2 linked regions of the Homo sapiens genome follow. The protein of the gene in region 2 purifies or fractionates together with the protein of the main gene of each other region. This does not show direct contact. Each region holds a gene or a part of one and is shown on either strand. Other genes may lie near its edges.

Region 1 (3,500 bases), on a different chromosome or scaffold from region 2:
AGGATTCTGACCCAGGCATTCTGGCTTGTACCCATATGGCATGCTTAACTGCAATCCATATTTTCTCTCCTGTTCATGATGGTCTTCCTCAGATCTGTAGTTTCAAAAACTTGACTTGGGAAATACATTCTTCTGACATCTAAATTTTGGGGTCAGTTTTCTAGAAAGAGTTCCAAAATAACACCCAAGTAAATGAGTTATTTTTGACATGTTATTTTAATCCATTTTTGGAAGTTATTCTTGGTGCAGATTAAATATAACTATTGAGTGGGACTTTTTAATAATTTTGACTTATTACCTATAAGTACTCATAAGAACTTAGAAGTGAGAAGTTATTCCATATTAACTCTTTTGCTTAATGGAATGTTTGCGTCTTTGTATATTTTGTCCTGTAATTTATTTTTTTTAAAGAAAGAACCTCACTGTCTTGCCCAGCCTGGACTCGAACTTCTGGGCTCAGATGATCTTCTTGCCTCCTAAGTTGCAGGAACTATAGGCCTGAGCCACTGTGTTTGGCTTTGTTCTGTAATTTTTTTTTTTTTTTTTTTTGACAGAGTTTAAGTCTGTCTTTTAGGCTGGAGTGCAGTAGTGCAATCATGGCTCATTGCAACCTCTGCCTCTCAGGCTCAAGCGATCCTCCCACCTCAGCCTCCTGAGTAGCTCGGACTACAGGTGTGCACAAGCACGCCCGACTGATTTTTAAATTTTTTGTAGAGACAGGGTTTCACTATGTTGCCCAGCCTGGTCTCGAACTCCTTGGCTCAAGTGATCCTCCTGCCTTGGCCTCCCAAATGTTGGGATTACAGGTGTGAGCCAATGTGCCCAGCCCTGTTCTATAATTTTTTAAACCACTTGGCACTGGATAGTTTTTGGGTTGAATTATGAAGTTGAAATTTAGTTAATGATTGAATGTTGGTCTCAGCCCTTTTAGTTTATTTTCATGAATAGCTATGCTTATAATGGCAGAAACAGGGTGAATAGAGTGTTGTACATGTAAAAATGAGAGAAGTTCCATCACTGATACTTTATGTTGGGGCAACTTTGACAGTTCTTTGGGTTTGTGAAATAAAGGGTGCTATAGAAGTGCACAGTGTCTTGTATAGGCCTACTCAGTACTGTAAATGTCCACCTGATTTTATTTATGAAGTTTCAGGAATAGTCCACATTTGTTATTGTTTAAGAATTGGAATCACAAATTCAATTGGATTTAAAGGTTAGAAAAAAAGTATACCTAGGCAGGGAATACAGCAGGTGAGCGGTGGGAGAGGTATTGCCTGCCTTTTCCTAACTGTCCAGCAGGATCCAGACTCTTCAGCTTCTTTGTCAGTGCCTGCAGTTGACCGTACTCATAGTTTAAGTACAGCTCCAGAGTCATAGTCTCTGTGAACGAATATAAGTATTCTCCACTTGACTCAATGGGGTAGGTTCTAGAAGACACCTATACTAGGACAGTTGATGGTTGATGAGCTTAAAACCTAATGGGAAGAGTAGCAGAACTAAAGCCAGGATTTAAAGCACGTGTGTTTATATTATTGAAATAAGACAGAGATGGCAAAACAAATTTTAAAAAGTTTTTTTTTGAAACATACCTTAAATTAATAGTGATGGTATATCATTTCCATTTACCATGCCCTGATTGGCAGATCTTTAGCCCATCATTTCATGGAGATACTTAGATGTGGACTTCGCTTTGTTATAAAAAGTTTCCAAGTTCTTCTAAGTACAGGTGGTTTGGGAAGATTGTCTTAGTAAAAAGGTGTGTGAGTAGGTCTATCAAAAGAAAACCAGTCATACTGTTACCTCCTTGCTGATTCAAGTTTTGGGGGCATCTTTTCCCACCAGGAACAGCTTATCTGCATTGAACGTCTGCTGAGGCAGGTAGCCTGCCTCTTAGATGAGCTCTGCACAGATCTTAGGGAAGACCTTAACAGTTACAGGTCATGTGGTGACCTGATCATTCACAGTCATATTGTATAAATTCCAAACAGGCCTGGAGCCTTGGCAATTGTCTGTGGTATGTGATAACACTTCTACTATGCTTAGCTTTTATTTATTTATTTATTTATTTTTGAGACAGAGTTTCACTCTTGTTGCCAAGGCTGGAGCGCAATGCATGATTTTGGTTCACTGCAACCCCCGCCTCCTGGGTTCAAGTGATTCTCTTGCCTCAGCCTCCCAAATATCTGGGATTACAGGCACGCACCACCATGCCTGGCTAAGTTTTGTATTTTTAGTAGAGATGGGGTTTCACCATGTTGGTCAGGCTGGTCTCGAACTCCCGACCTCAGGTGATCCGCCCGCCTCGGCCTCCCAAAGTGCTGGGATTACAGGCGTGAGCCACTGCGCCTGGCCTATGCTTAGCTTTTAAATTCTTAACAAGCTCTTTACCTTCCCCTTAATTAACACCAGATCAGTTGGTAACCCAAATTGTTGATTCTCTGGCCATTTATACAGAAGGCTTCCTGTTTTCCTTGCCTTTTGCTGATTCTCGTTGATTCCACAGGTATAGAATTTCTACATGTTATAATAGATAAATCTCTGATCCCGTATGCACAGATAGCATCCATTGTTTTCTTACCTCTTTGAGTTATTTACTATCTCTCCAGCTGATTCAGGAGATTTTATTCCTCGTTTTCCTGATTCCTGGGACACTTTTACTGCTTTTGCAGTTCCTGAATAGGGTGGAGTTAATAATGTTTAACACCTCAAATCAGCTACAGATACACCCAGAATAAAGAACAAGATGGCAGAAACTAACATGAGGGCATGATAGCTAACCCAGGCATTCGGGGTTGCTGTACCTTTGCTATGGAGTCTAGCTTTCATTCTGTCTGTGAAAGTTTAGAAAATTGAGTTTGGGACAGAGAAGCTTCTGCACACATTAATGCCTACTTTTCAGGGGGCCAAGTTCTCCCATTGCTATTCTGCTTTTATGAATACGGTTATTGCTATTCTGCTTTTATGAATACGGTTATTGCTATTCTGCTTTTATGATCTGGAGATTTTGACTGCATTTCTCTTGATTCCTCACCAATTCAAGAGACACAGTAAGTAATCTGAACATTTAATATGAAGCATACTTTGTGTAATTTATATTTCTCAAAGTTTGTCTCCCAGTGGTAATATATAGATTTAGCTCCCTGAACATCATCTTTCCCTCTTAAATGTTCTTGATTCCTTTTTCTTTCTGAATGTCACCCATTAGGGCACAGGTCTGATAATTTTATCAATGCCAGTAACCACTTATCCCTTACTATGCACCAGACATAGTGCTAAGTACTTTATATATATTATCTCATTTAATCCTTATAGCAATCTTGTGAGTTATTATCTCTACCTACAAATGAGGAAATTGGAGCTTAGAGAGGTGAAGTGACTTGCCCAGGGACACACAGGTAGATAGTAAGTGGTAGAGTTAGAAATTGCTCCTTCAGGCCGGGCGCGGTGACTCACGCCTGTAATCCCAGCACTTTGGGAGGCCGAGGTGGGCAGATCACGAG
Region 2 (3,500 bases):
CTTGGGCTTATGTATCAAAAGACTTTTAAGTTTTTGTGGCACATGAATATTTGTATCTAAAATAGTTTATCCTTAAGAGGGTTCTTAAAAATAACTCAGTATTATTTTTTCTGATTACTTTTTTTGGCTTGAAAAATATTAAAAACATTAGGTTGTGCTGCGAGTTTCATAAAGATAACTACAACACTTCTAATACAAACATTTTTTTAGTTTCAGTACAAAACGGTTCGATTCATCAAAAAGATGCTGTAAATGATGATGATTTTGAGCCATACTTAAGTAGCCAGACAAATCAGGTAAGTCTTCTGACAGTTTCAGATTTTAGGAAATTAACCTTTTATTAGTATTAGTTGATTTTTCAAATAGATTATTTAATGAGATTAACCATAACATGGATTCATTCATCTAGTGTACCTATATAGTAAGTGAGTAGTGAGTAGCAGTTGCAGATTTATGGCACAGGAGAGTTCTTCTTCAGAAAGTATAGGCACCAGAAACTAGGTTATGAAATATAGAATAAAGATTTGAAGGTGACCATTATTTGTATATATTATGGTTAGGTTTTTTGTGTGTGTGTATTGAAGGAACTTAATCTTTTAATGTCACTGCTATATCTTCATAGCTTAAGCTAATTATAAAAGGCTTAATTAGCTAGAAATTTGGGTATTTGGAGGAGGGATTAGTTACCTGAAATTGCCTGCAATTTTGGGTCAAATGTAGTGTTTTCTTTTTTTAAGACATTGCAGATTGAATTCATTGATAACTATTGAAAATTTTAACATACCTTGGTAATGTCGGTGATAGAATTAAGGAGTTTATAAACATACTTGCTTTATAAACACAGTTACTTCTGTATTGTAGACATGGACAGTTTTATCAAATCAAGTAATTGGTAACTGGTGGCTTTGAGTATTTGTGTACAAGCGTAATTCCAATTTAAACATTGAAGAACAATGCTATTAGGTATCTGTATGCCATTTCTGCATCCATTTCTGTCTGTTACTAAAAATAAGCCACTGATAGAAATAAATGAAAAAATACATTTTCAGTATTCACCAGTTTTTTTAGAGAGAACATTGTGGAATGAAACTGTTTGTTTTGCTTTAAAAAAGCAAAAAATGCTCAAGAACTTTGGGTCTTAAAATTAGTTCTGTAGTTCTTATTTATTTATTTATTTTTGAGACGGAGTCTCGCTCTGTCGCCCAGGCTGGAGTGCAGTGGTGCGATCTCAGCTCACTGCAAGCTCTGCCTCCCGGGTTCACGCCATTCTCCTGCCTCAGCCCGGAGTAGCTGGGACTACAGGCGCCCGCCACCATGCCCGGGTAATTTTTTTGTATTTTTAGTAGAGACAGGGTTTCACCATGTTAGCCAGGATGGTCTCGATCTCCTGACCTCATGATCCGCCCGCCTCGGCCTCCCAAAGTGCTGGGATTACAGGTGTGAGCCACTGGGCCCAGCCCACCTCTGTAGTTCTTTGGAATAATTTTATGATTAATTTGATTAGAAACTCAGTTCTTTGGAATAATTTTATGATTAATTTGATTAGAAACTCAGTTTTTTTTTTTTCTTTAATTTTTGAGACAGTCTTGTTTTGTTGCCCAGGCTGGAGTGCAGTGGCGCAATCTTGGCTCACTCCAACCTCTGCCTCCCAGGCTCAAGTGATTCTTCTGCCTCAACCTCCTGAATAGCTGGGATTACAGGCACATGCCACCACGCCTGGCTACTTTTTGTATTTTTTAGTAGAGGTAGAGTTTCACCATGTTGGCCAGGCTGGTCTTGAACTCCTGACCTCAAGTAATCTGCCTGCCTCAGCCTCCCAAAGTGCTGGGATTACAAGCATGAGCCACCGTGCCCAGCCTAAAATTCAGATTTTAATTGGCACGTTAAAGATGCCAGTTAGTTTGTGTGTGTAAATTTGAAGAGTAAATTGGAAAACTGAATGAAGTTTGACTTGTCTGCTTGCATATATGGAGAAAATGAAAAACGTACTCTAAAATTTTAACCTAGATTTTTGAAACTCTGAAAGAACAAGGAACCAAATCTTACTACAGAACTGAACAGTTTGTACAGTAGAGTTATAGGGAAAATTTGAACAAAAAGTAGTTCCCAATTTGTGGGATGCAGGATTATTTTTAGGATTATGGAGAGTGGTGGTTGTGTTCAACCTCATCTACCTCTTGGTTACTTCCCCTTAACCACCCCTTCCTATCTACTGAGCAACATTCCTAGCATACATGGGAGGAGAAGAAATAAATGGGAAAGAAAAAAACTTTACGATCTCAGCAAAATTACTTTTCCACGTAAAGATTATGAAAGTAGATCATTTGTTGTGAAATGTAGTGCAAGTTTTAAAATAAGCGTGATTTTACTATATTCTGGCTCACATAGTAATCTCAGTTAACGCTTATGGCAGTATGGCAGTATTTTCCAACTTTGCTGAGAAATCTTAATATTAGGAGGTGTAATAAATATTCCTTCAAAAAGATGTCCATGTTTAGATAGATTTGAGAAATTTTGGAGGCTAAACAGTTGAACTGTTTTTTTTGCTACTTGATTTCATAGTTTATAAATTATAATTGAAAATGAAGTTCTTAAGATGAAGATATAGTATAAAAAATCCTGACTTGTTCAAACTCTTATTTTTTTTTTTTTTTTGAAACGGAGTCTCGCTCTGTTGCCTAGGCTGGAGTGCAGTGGCATAATCTTGGCTCACTGCAACCTCTGTCGCCCAGGTTCAAGAAATTTTCCTGCCTCAGCCTCCCAAGTAGCTGGGATTACAGACACATGCTACCACGCCTGGCTAATTTTTATATTTTTAGGAGAGGTGAGGTTTCACCATATTGGCAAGGCTGGTCTTGAACTCCTGACGTCAAGTGATCCACCTGCCTCGGCCTCCCAAAGTGCTGGGATTACAGGCATGGAACACCGCACTCAGCCATTCAAACTCTTTTTTAAGGAATTTTAGTGGACTGTAAAAGACAGTTTTGGAATTGCTACCTGAGTAATCTTCTTGCATGTTTTGCTTGATAACAGATATTTTACAATTCTTTATTATTTGTCACAAGGACATAGAAGGGTTTCTACTGGAGGAAAAATTTTTGTCAGGAGGATTTCTGGTATTCCATAGAGGCACCTTAGTGTCTTCCTAGGGAAAACCAGCGGAGGGTGCCTGAATCCCACCAGTGTAGCAACTAGCACTGTGGTTTGCGTTTTATCTGTTCTATATATTGGAATTGTGCATAAGACTTTACTTGTAAAAAAAAAAATAGTTTTAAAAAGTGTTTGGGAAACCATTACTTTTTAAAAGATGTAAAGGCATTTACCTTAGTGAACCCAAATGAATTTTTTCAGCTGCATCATTGCAGGTTATGTTGGAGCAAAACATTTGTAAAATAGATTTGTTTTAACTCATGATATTTGGAATCAACATATTTGTATCCTGTTTGAAGAGAAGTTGTAAAGTTTGATTCCAGTAAGGCCTGTTCTACCTCTCCTTTGTG

The links. Proteins that work in one complex are often made in the same cells at the same time.
Region 1: the proteins of YTHDF3 (region 2) and STK38L purify together in Homo sapiens (pull-down; one large-scale study listed by IntAct). This does not show direct contact.

Annotation. Positions count from the first base shown.
Region 1 is NC_000012.12:27,247,286-27,250,785, forward strand, and holds part of STK38L (serine/threonine-protein kinase 38-like), read left to right. Parts: intron 1-3,500. UniProt on the Homo sapiens protein: Involved in the regulation of structural processes in differentiating and mature neuronal cells.
Region 2 is NC_000008.11:63,175,121-63,178,620, forward strand, and holds part of YTHDF3 (YTH domain-containing family protein 3), read left to right. Parts: intron 1-210; coding exon 211-296; intron 297-3,500. UniProt on the Homo sapiens protein: Specifically recognizes and binds N6-methyladenosine (m6A)-containing RNAs, and regulates their stability. M6A is a modification present at internal sites of mRNAs and some non-coding RNAs and plays a role in mRNA stability and processing.